Linked DNA regions of Homo sapiens. The protein of the gene in region 1 purifies or fractionates together with the protein of each later gene. This does not show direct contact. Each region holds a gene or a part of one and is shown in the gene's direction. Other genes may lie near its edges.

The links.
Region 2: the proteins of MTMR6 (region 1) and BBS7 purify together in Homo sapiens (affinity purification with mass spectrometry, with the first as the bait; one large-scale study listed by BioGRID). This does not show direct contact.
Region 3: the proteins of MTMR6 (region 1) and SOAT1 purify together in Homo sapiens (affinity purification with mass spectrometry, with the first as the bait; one large-scale study listed by BioGRID). This does not show direct contact.

Annotation. Positions count from the first base shown.
Region 1 is NC_000013.11:25,256,477-25,260,135, reverse strand, and holds part of MTMR6 (phosphatidylinositol-3,5-bisphosphate 3-phosphatase MTMR6), read left to right. Parts: intron 1-1,443; coding exon 1,444-1,576; intron 1,577-2,290; coding exon 2,291-2,400; intron 2,401-2,814; coding exon 2,815-2,940; intron 2,941-3,659. UniProt on the Homo sapiens protein: Lipid phosphatase that specifically dephosphorylates the D-3 position of phosphatidylinositol 3-phosphate and phosphatidylinositol 3,5-bisphosphate, generating phosphatidylinositol and phosphatidylinositol 5-phosphate.
Region 2 is NC_000004.12:121,856,962-121,860,620, reverse strand, and holds part of BBS7 (BBSome complex member BBS7), read left to right. Parts: intron 1-1,442; coding exon 1,443-1,629; intron 1,630-3,659.
Region 3 is NC_000001.11:179,355,989-179,359,339, forward strand, and holds the end of SOAT1 (sterol O-acyltransferase 1), read left to right. Parts: 3' UTR 1-2,692; downstream 2,693-3,351.

The DNA of each region.
Region 1 (3,659 bases):
ATCCCAGCACTTTGGAAGGCTAAGGTGGGTAGATCACCTGAGGTCAGGAGTTTGAGACCAGCCTGGCCAACATGGCAAAACCCCGTCTCTACTAAAAATACAAAAAATTAGCTGGGTGCGATGGCAGGCGCCTGTAATCCCAGCTACTTGGGAGGCTGAGGCAGGAGAATTGCTTGAACCCAGGAGGCAGAGGTTGCAGTGAGCCGAGATTGTGCCATTGCACTCCAGACTGGGTGACAAAAAAAAAATTAATAATTATTTAAAAATAGAAATTGATAACTTGATAATCTTTTATTAAAAATAAAAGACTTTATTAGGAGTTGAGAGTGTTGGTGATATCTCATAAGAAAAATTCTGGAACACTTTTTTGATAATATTAGATATAAAAGGCGATTGTAATATGAGACTTTTTGAAGATGAGGTCTGATACAGTGATTTGTTTTTCAGGACCTCATAGTTCTTATTTGTATAATTATCTTCTTCACAGAAAATATATCATTCTTTGATTGTTTTACTAGTTAAATGTAACTCAAGTAGTAATAATGTGGAAGCATTTTTTAACATCTAACTGTAGATTTTACTTTAGGTACCGAATAACTAGTGAGTCAGTAGGATACAATTTAACTGTACTTGTTACCAAACTGAGGTCCAATCCACAAAATGAAGAGCTCCTTTTCTTCTAATTTAGGCTTCGTTTTATCCACGTTCATAAGAATTTTTAATAAATTGTGTTAACATACTATATGAAATCCTAGCCTGGAAGAATTAAGCATGACAAATCCTAAGGGACCACTGACAACATTTTGATCTAATAGCTAAAGACCATGGGCATATGAGCAATCTGTTTTTTCCTGGAGACCAGTTTATTTTTGGCCCAATTCTCAGAGATGTATCAGGATAGCCGATTATATGCCATATTATATGATGTATGGGCCTCCAATAATCTCTCATATAATCTCCCTCAAGTAATCTGAAGCATATTTCAGATCTGATTTTCAGGTCCCTATGGCTCTCAGAATGATCAATGCCCTAGGCTTGTTCTGAAGTAAACTCATAGGTTCATTCTGTAAAAGGAAAGTCCCCCAGCCAGCTCTGCTCAACTGAATCATTTAGAAATTAGATAGGAGACATTTCTTTCTTTTTAATTTTAAAATATTACAAACATATGGAAACTGCCTAAAATATAAATGAATTGGTTTCATGAACTTATGGGAACTTTGACCTTTCCATTATATAGCAATCGTATTACTTTATTATCTCCTTCATTACTATTTAATAATGTGGCATTTTTACTTACTAAAAGATGAATGGTAGCTTATTCAGTTTTGATGAGTTCCTTTAAACTGCCTCCTAGCTAAAATACTGCTTATTTAATATTTTCATGACATTTTGGTAAATTAAAAAAGTAATTTGTCTCTAAATTTCTAAAACTTTTAATTTTAGCTGAATGCAATGGCCAACAGAGCAGCTGGAAAAGGTTATGAAAATGAAGACAACTATTCCAATATTAGATTTCAGTTTGTTGGAATTGAAAATATTCATGTCATGAGGTCCAGCCTTCAGAAATTATTGGAAGGTATATTATTGCTTACTTTTTTAGACACCCTTGTCCAAAAGAAATCTAATGCTAGTCACATGTAATTTAGAATTTTCCAGTGGTCACATTTTAAAAAGTAAAAAGAAACAAGTGAAATTAATTTTAATAATATCCTTACTTAATATATTATAAACATTATTTTAACATGTAGTCAATATAAAAAAAATCAGTAATGAGATATTTTTCTTTTCATCAACTCTTAGAAATCAGGCATGTATTTTACACTTACTACACATCTGAGTTTGGACAAGCCATATTTCAAATGTTTAGTAGCCGTATTTGGTTAGTGGCTGCTGTATTAGACAGTACAATTCTAATGGTTTTGCAAAAAAAATGTTATTAGATAGATATTCTTGAGTAGTCAGTACAATAAATACTAATTTGTAGTAATGTTCATTTAAATATTCCAGTCATAGTATAGAATTTAAAAAATTAAAATATAAGATTATTTTTAGTTAGATGCTTGTGCTACAATGTTTTTTAAGAGATTGGAGCATTTTTGTAAGCACGGGAATAATAGAAAAATATATCCAAGAATCAGTTATTGAGCTTTTAATAGCATCTTTTCATTTATAGAGTCTTGCCTGTTTATTTTGTCTTCTTTCTTCATTCACTTATCTAGAGAGATCTTGAAAAAAGAAATGCAGAAACTCTAGCCATATTCTAATTGAAATATTTTTATACCTCTTTCAGTCAATGGCACTAAAGGGCTTTCTGTCAATGATTTCTACTCCGGTTTGGAGAGCTCGGGATGGCTTCGCCATATCAAAGCTGTTATGGATGCTGCAATCTTCTTGGCCAAAGTAATACTTTATCTTTCATATTTGGTCTTGGGGTCTATAATGATTGGGAAGGAGTAGATGTATTCTGTTGGGGGCTGGTATCTATTCATCAGATAACTTTTATTATTTTTTACCTCTTTAATGAGCTTCACTTTATTTTCAGCCTTAAAAATATCATGTAGCACTTAATGTAGAAACTTAAAAAGATGCTCCTAAATACTTTGAAGTGGCATTTTTTCTTTGTTTTTTTTTTGTTTGTTTGCTTGTGTTTTTGTTGTTACCATATTTTGTTGTGTATTTTGGAAATTATGCTGTGACATTATCATTGCAGGCATAGCACTTCCTTGTAACACAATACCTGCTAGTATGATTTTCAAGTAGAATTTATTGGTTTACCTTAAAGTACGCTAGAATGTATGTGATCTTTCTTTTCAGGCAATAACAGTTGAAAATGCAAGTGTGTTGGTGCATTGTTCCGATGGTTGGGATAGGACTTCCCAGGTTTGTTCCCTGGGTTCTCTTTTATTGGATTCCTACTACAGGACAATCAAAGGATTCATGGTAAGGATTTATTTGGTTAGACCAATGGTTCTTAAGTAGGAGTAATTTTATGTTCCTCCAGAGGACATTTGGCAATGTTGGAGACAGTTTTGCACTAAAGGAAATGATGAGACTGGCATCCGTGGGAGTGGCCAGGGATATTGCTAACTAAACATTTTATAATGCACAAAATTTTTGCTGGGGGGTCAGCCTCACAGCAAAGACTGATCTGGCCTGTAATGTCAGTACTGTCGAGGTTGAAAAACCTTGAATTAGACTTATTTCCATTTGTGCTAACACTGACAATAAGCTTTAGATTTAAATAATTTTTTTTCCTAAAATGTTGCAATGGAAATATTCAGTATTTTCTCCCTCATTTTTATCTAACAAATGTAAATAATGTAATAAAACAATGCACAAATAAGAGTACTTAAAATTAAATTCTGAAGGAAACCTTCTATTTAAAACACCTGCATTAGTAAGTGTAATAACATATTAGGCATGTTTTATATCTGAAGATAAAATTTCTAGTTGAATAGATTTTCTCCTTTGTGAAGATAAAGACCTAGTTCCTTTTTTTTGTTTCTTTGCTTTTAAAGGTATGATCAGATTTTTATTTGCTTGCTTTTAAACGTGTGAGCAGATTAACTTATGTTTTCAAAATTTACATCTTAACTCATGGTAAATTAAATGAAGAGATGTTAGAAAATTTTCATTAGTCTTGAATTATTAAATACAGT
Region 2 (3,659 bases), on another chromosome or scaffold:
ATAATTATGGAATACTGAAAGTAATGTGTTAATAGCATAACTCTACATTCGGACAGTTATATGGATAGTAGTGTGAGAAAGATAGAGAGTTTCTCAGTAACAGTCTCTTCAAGTGGTTTCTTAAATGTTTTTACTAGAGTGGCAAAGATGGGATAGAAAAGTTCTTTACTCAATTTTTGAAAATTGATTGTCTGAATCCCCACATTTGTAAGGTTTTATAGGAAAACAAAAGTTATAACTTGAAGATATTCAGTAAGGAAACTGACCACTTAACATTAGTCACCACATATCCTTTCCTGCTTAATGTTGCCATGTATCCCCACTCATGTCAACAATAGAGATTGCTAAATAGTACTTTGGCCAATATAATGCAAATATAATACAGATTGGTTTCAAAATGGAATTTAAAATTTTGAAAAACATAGAGAATTTCATGAAATTGATAAAAATAGTAAGAGGACTATTCAATCATATGCAGAGCCACAAAGTGAGGCCACTTAATAACTGAAGAATAGAAAATCAGGGAGGATTATTATAGGATAAGCTCTTCAGAGAATAATTTTAATATAAAATTTTTTAATAGAACTTGGAGGTAGAGGAATACATGAAACATTCAAATAAAATTACCCTCTTTATGATAAATATGGTAATAACAACCTAGAAGTGAAAAATATATCACACTTAAATATAATTTTTGTCAAGACATTTTAGCTCACCCAAGTGAAAACTCAGTTCAGTCTAAGAATTAGAATATAGTTATGACTATTGACTAAATTTTGTTAAATGTAATATGAAATAAACTTGTTTTCATTTCTTTTTTCAAGATAAAGTTCTAATGAAATCTTTTTTTTTCTGCTGTTTATCATTTAGTTTGAGGTAGAATCACTTAAAATAGACTTTTTCAGGCAATTTAGTGTGGTAGTAAGAAAGCTAACTCGAGCAAAAAACTGAGTTGCAGTCTAATCTACTACTTAATACTTAGGTGCCATTAGGCAAGTTATTTTACATTTTATTATTCACCTGTAAAAGGAATAATAATGGTCCTTATTTTATAGAGTTATGATGATTAATTGATCTAATACATAAAAATCACTTAAGATAGTGCTTGGCACATAGTACACAAAGAAGTCATTTTTTGATGTATTAATTGTCTTTGGATATAGACAGTTAAATTATCATTATCTTGTCTTTGTTTTCCATTTTTCTGAGCTCAGTTTTTATTGAGAAGCCCGAGGCCTTAACATCCTCATTTTCAGCTTTCAAAATCAAAAACAGTGTTATACCAAAAATACTAGGAATTAACTAGGAGAAAGTTTTAAAAACTGTGTTCTCTAAGTCTATAATAAAATGTTAGTAAACTGTATACATTTTTCTGTTTTTATCTCTGAAAAAAATTCAGTACCTGTGCTTATTTTTAAAAATTACTATTTTAATGTTCTCAGGCACATATCTGGCTCAGACCTCTTTCTCAGTGCAAGTTACATCTATAACCATTATTGTGACTGCAAAGACCAACATTATTACCTTTCTGGGGATAAAATCAATGATGTGATCTGCCTTCCAGTGGAAAGATTATCTCGTATCACACCTGTATTGGCCTGCCAGGACAGAGTGCTCAGAGTTTTACAGGTTGCTGTTATTTGTATTTTTCTAATTTTTTATATTATGTGAAAGAATATCAATGAACATTATGTACTTGAGATAAATTAGTGGTTACTGTTTTAAGGGCTTTTATAAACATGTGGAAACAATTTTTAAATAATTTGACATATTAATTTTTTTAACTTGAGTCAAATGTGTTGTTTTGTAAGTTTTTAAGAGAAGCATATTTGGAAGAAAAAGGATTTTTTTTGCCTCACCATACACAATTTCTGAGCTATTATCAGAATGGAGTACTTTGACTACAGAGAACCTTTACCTGCCTTTTTGTTTTGTTTTCTTCTTCCATCACCTTTATCTTCCCCAAAAATCAAATTAAAGGAAGAAATTGGGTTGGAGGGAGGATGTTATATAACTTGAGTTTATCCAGTGTTTATGGAAGTATATGGAATAAGCACTCAGTAAATATATGTTGGATAAGTAAATGAGTGATAGAGGGAAAATTCATTTTGATGTCCTTATATTTCTGGTAAAAACCACGATTGGCTAAAACAACTGCTTCAGGTCATTGTTATGAGTAATAATAGTTACCACTATATCTTCTTGAGAGTGACTTTCAATAAAATATATGCACACACACACACACACACACTCTATAGGATGCTTAAAATAATGTTTAAAGGTAAATAGCATGTAACAGTTAGATGAACTGTATCAGAAACAGGCTGATATAGTTGGTGCAGTTGATGAAAAAGTTGAGCTGTGAAGTCCATGCCACCACAGGCTATCTCACTCTTTGGAATTCCATAGTCAGATGGCCATTTCTTGGCATCAGCCCTTTTGTAAAAGGAAAAATCCAGTGAGTCTATGAGGTTTTTACCCCCCAGGGACAAAGTAATGTTAAAGGTTCATTTTAGGCCAGGCATGGTGGCTCACACCTGTAATTCCAGCACTTTTGGAGGCTGAGACGGGAAGATCATTTGAGGCCAGGAGTTTGAGACCAGCCTGGCCAACATGGTGAAACCCTGTCTCTACTAAAAATACAAAATTAGCTGGGTGCAGTAGCACACACCTGTAATCCCAGTTACTCAGGAGGCTGAAGCACAAGAATCACTCGAACCCAGGAGGCGGAGGTTGCGGTGAGCTGAAATTGCATCACTGCACTCCAGCCTGGGCAACAGAGGGAGACTCCATCTCAAAAAAAAAAAAAAAAGAAAAGAAAAAAGGTTCATTTTAGAGTTATGAATGATTAATTTCCCCCATAGCCTATGCTTTTAAATATGAATTGTTTTGAACAAGGCTTTTAACAGGAGCTGTTTAGCATTCAATTAGAAATTGACTGAATTCTAGGATTCTGCTTTGACAAGAGATCCATATGCTTATTATTTTTAAAATAATTACTAAAGATCTGTAGAAAATAAAGTTGAAGTCTTTCCCTCTGCACCGCATGCTTTTTTCTCACTCCCCGTCTATCTCTGTGAATAATCCATTACTCCAGAGGTTGCCTCTTTTTAACAGTTTTGTGTATATTCTTTTGTGTTTATATAGTTACGTGTAGATATCTGTAAATTTTAATATGATATTTTAAATAAAAGATAAAACAGGCTGGGCACAGCGGCTCAGGCCTATTACCCCAGCACTTTGGGAGGCCGAGGTTGGAGGATCACTTGACTCCAGGAATTCAAGACCAGCCTGGGCAACATAGCGAGACCCCCATCTCTTAAAAAAAATTTAGCTGGGCATGGTGGTGCATGCCAGTAGTCCCAGCTACTCAGGAAGCTGAGGTGGGAACATCATTTGAGCCCAGAAGGTCGAGGCTGCGGTAAGCTATGATCACACCACTGCACTGCACTCCAGCCTGGATGACAGAGTCAGATCCTGGCTCAAAAAAAAAAAAAAAGATAAAGCATATGGCTTTCTTACGTTTTCTAAATAAACATTAAACTTTTTTTAGTCCTGATGTGGTGGCTCACGCCTGTAATCCCAGCACTGTGGGAGGCTGAGGCAGATGGATCACCTGAGGTCAGGAGTTCAAGACCAGTCTGGCCAACATGGTGAAA
Region 3 (3,351 bases), on another chromosome or scaffold:
AGCCATAATCTTATTGCTAGCTGCTTTTAGCAAAAGTCTTTTCTTGAAACCACCACCTATACTCTTTAAACAAATAAAAACTAAAATCTCTTGCTAATGTTTCAGGAAGATTTATTTTTTCTATTTTGCTATTGTGGCGAAAATTATTTTCAGTTATAGGATACTTTTTTCCTTCTGAAAAGTAATAAGCTTAAAGTTTTTGTTTCTGTAAGATGTAATGATAGTAACTATTATTTTGGGCATATTAACCAACAGAACAATTATGTAGTATGTATATCACTTTCTCATTAGATCTCTAACTTGACCTTCTAGTACCTTTATGTGTGAGGATAAATTTGTTAGATCCTTTTATTCTCAATCTTGGATAATGATGCAAAATGGAATTTTGTTTTGTTTGTTGGTAGATTCACATACTAAAACTTTGCAGGTAAAGTTGCTTGCCTCATGTTAGAATTTAATTAGAAAACTGAGGCTGCCTTTTTTTTTTTTTTTTTTTTTTTTTAAGACAGAGTCTTGTTCTGTCGCCCAGGCCAGTTTTTTTTTTCTTGTACAGATGGGGTTTTACCATGTTGCTCAGGCTGGTCTCAAACTCCTGGAGTCAAGGGATCTATTTGCCTCAGCCTCTCAAAGTGCTGGGATTACAGGTGTGAGCCACGGCTCCTGGCTCCTTGCTCCAGAATCAGTTTTTTAATGGAAGATAGCTCATACTTTGTTTTTGTTTTTAAAGAGACAGGGTCTCACTCTGTTGCCCAGGCTGGTAGTAGCGTGATCATAGCTCACTGCAGTCTCAAACTCCTGGACTCAAATAGTGCTCTGGAGTACCTAGAACTACAAGTGCCTACCACCACACCCAGCTAATTTATTTGTTTTTTTTTTTTTAGAGATGGGGGGGGTCTCCCTATGTTGCCCAGGCTGGTCTCAAACTCTTCACCTCAAGCAAAACTCCCACTGCAGAAAGCTTTGGGATTACAGGCATGAGCCACCATGCCAAGCCCATACTTATTGTTAATAAAGTTTCAGTGACTTGCTTACTAATCTTATGCAAAATTTCATGTAATTTATGTAATACTACATAACAATGCTACATATGGTATGTATACATACACTGTATACACACAAAGGTCTGTTCTGGGTATTTTATGTATCTTATCTCTAGGCTTTATGGCTCTGAAATGGAGGGAACTGGACATAAATGTTTCAAGGAATAAAGTGAATGTTTTGTTTGTTTGTTTGTTTTGAGACGGAGTCTCAGTCACCAGGCTGGAGTGCAGTGCTGTGATCTCAGCTCACTGCAACCTCTGCCTCCTGGGTTCAAGCGATTCTCCTGCCTCAGCCTCCCGAGTAGCTGGCATTACAGGTGCCTGCCACCATGTCCAGCTAATTTTTGTGTTTTTAGTAGAGATGGGGTTTCACCATGATGGTCAGGCTGGTCTCGAACTCCTGACCTCATGATCCGCCAGCCTCAGCCTCCCATAGTGCTGGGATTATAGGCATGAGCCATGCTCCCGGCCAAAGTGAATGTTTTGGGTGAAGTTTATATAAGGATTTGACTTTTGTATCATTATTAAAGTTTCTGTCAGGTAATACAGTGTTGGCCCTCTGTTGAAATAAAATGTTACATATCGCTGGGTGTAGTGGCTCATGCCTTTAATCCCAGTACTTTGGGAGGCCAAGGCAGGAGGATTGCTTGAGCTCAGAAGTTTGAGACCAGCCTGGGCAACATAGCAAAACCTTGTCACTATAAAAAATACAAAAATTAGCCAGGCGTGGTGGTGCACGCCTGTAGTCTCAGCTACTCAGTCGGCTGAGGTGGGAAGATGGCTTCAAGCCGGGAGATGGAGGCTTCAGTGACCTGTGACCTGTGATCACACCACTTAATTCCTCAAAACATTTATGTCCCAGTTCCCTCCATTTCAGAGCCATGGGCAACAGAGCGAGACCCTGTCTCAAAAAAAAAATTACATATAAGCCCGGTTTAAAGAGAGGATAATATGCAACCACCCTAGTTGAAACAGAGTGTATCACTTCTTTCTCACCCTAAATTTAATGCCTAGTTTGAAAATCAGTAGACAATAATAAAGTTGATAAGCTTTAGGTTGGTAGGAAAGCTATGTAATCTATATAGTGTACTAAATCCTTATATGTTTTTGGTAAAAAAAGACTTTAATAGCTAATTTGGACTTCAGAAAATGGGTTAATTTCACGAGTGCATATCACTTTTGACTATATTAGTCAAGCATATTATTAAAGTTTAAAAAACTCTAAAACTTCTGTACTGTTTTTTTCTTAAGTGCTCTCTTCCTTATTTCTACATTACTACATTCACATTTCTGCTGTCAATAAGCCCTAATGGAGTGATAAACTTTAAGCTAGTAGATACTGCACCATGTCTTGTGGTGGTGTTTTCTTAATGAAATGGAAGCTGTACTTCCTGTTTGTTTTTAAATACTTTTGAAACAGACAGTTCATGTACCCCATCATTTAGAGATGCAGTTTGAATTTCCATGGAAAAAGGTGCCAATTTTGGATTGGGAAAGGAGCTGAAGCCCCAGTCAAGACTTTGCCATTTGGGGTAATGCAGCAGATTCCTGTGTCTGTATCTTTCCAGTGTGTGTGTTAATCCATAGTGTTCTGAGCACCAGAAGGGTCATGTAAATCTGAAGTTGTTATTAAAGGTTTTTCTATAGTGAAAGATGTCTTTTCTGATTCATTCTTGTATGTTACTTTCCTGAATTGCTATTCCCTCTGCCCCCTGCAAGTCCTTGTCTGATCACTGGTACCAATACTTTGTTTAGTATGAGTTGTATTAGCATTAACTTAAAAATTTTTAGGCCGGGCGCAGTAGCTCACGCCTGTAATCCCAGCACTTTGGGAGGTTGAGGTGGGTGGATCACAAGGTCAGGAGTTCGAGACCAGCCTGGCCAATATGGTGAAACCTCGTCTTTACTAAAAATACAAAAAAATTAGCCAGGCATGGTGGCACATATCTGTAATCCCAGCTACTTGGGAGGCTGAGGCAGGAGAATTGCTTGAATCCGGGAGGCAGAGGTTGCATTGAGCCGAGATCGCGCCACTGCACTCCAGCCTGGGTAACAGAGCGAGATTCCATCTCAAAAAAAAATTTTTTTTTAACTTAAAAATATACAAAAAAGGCAAAATACTGCACATGTAAATGTGATAAATATATTTGGAAGAAACCTAGTCTATTTTTTATTTTTTTATGTCTTTGAGACAGTCTCATTCTGTTGCCTAGGCCAGAGTACAGTGGTGTGATCTCAGCTTACTGCAACCTCCCCCTCCTAGGTTCAAGTGATTCTCCTGCCTCAGCCTCCCCAGTAGCTGGGATTACAG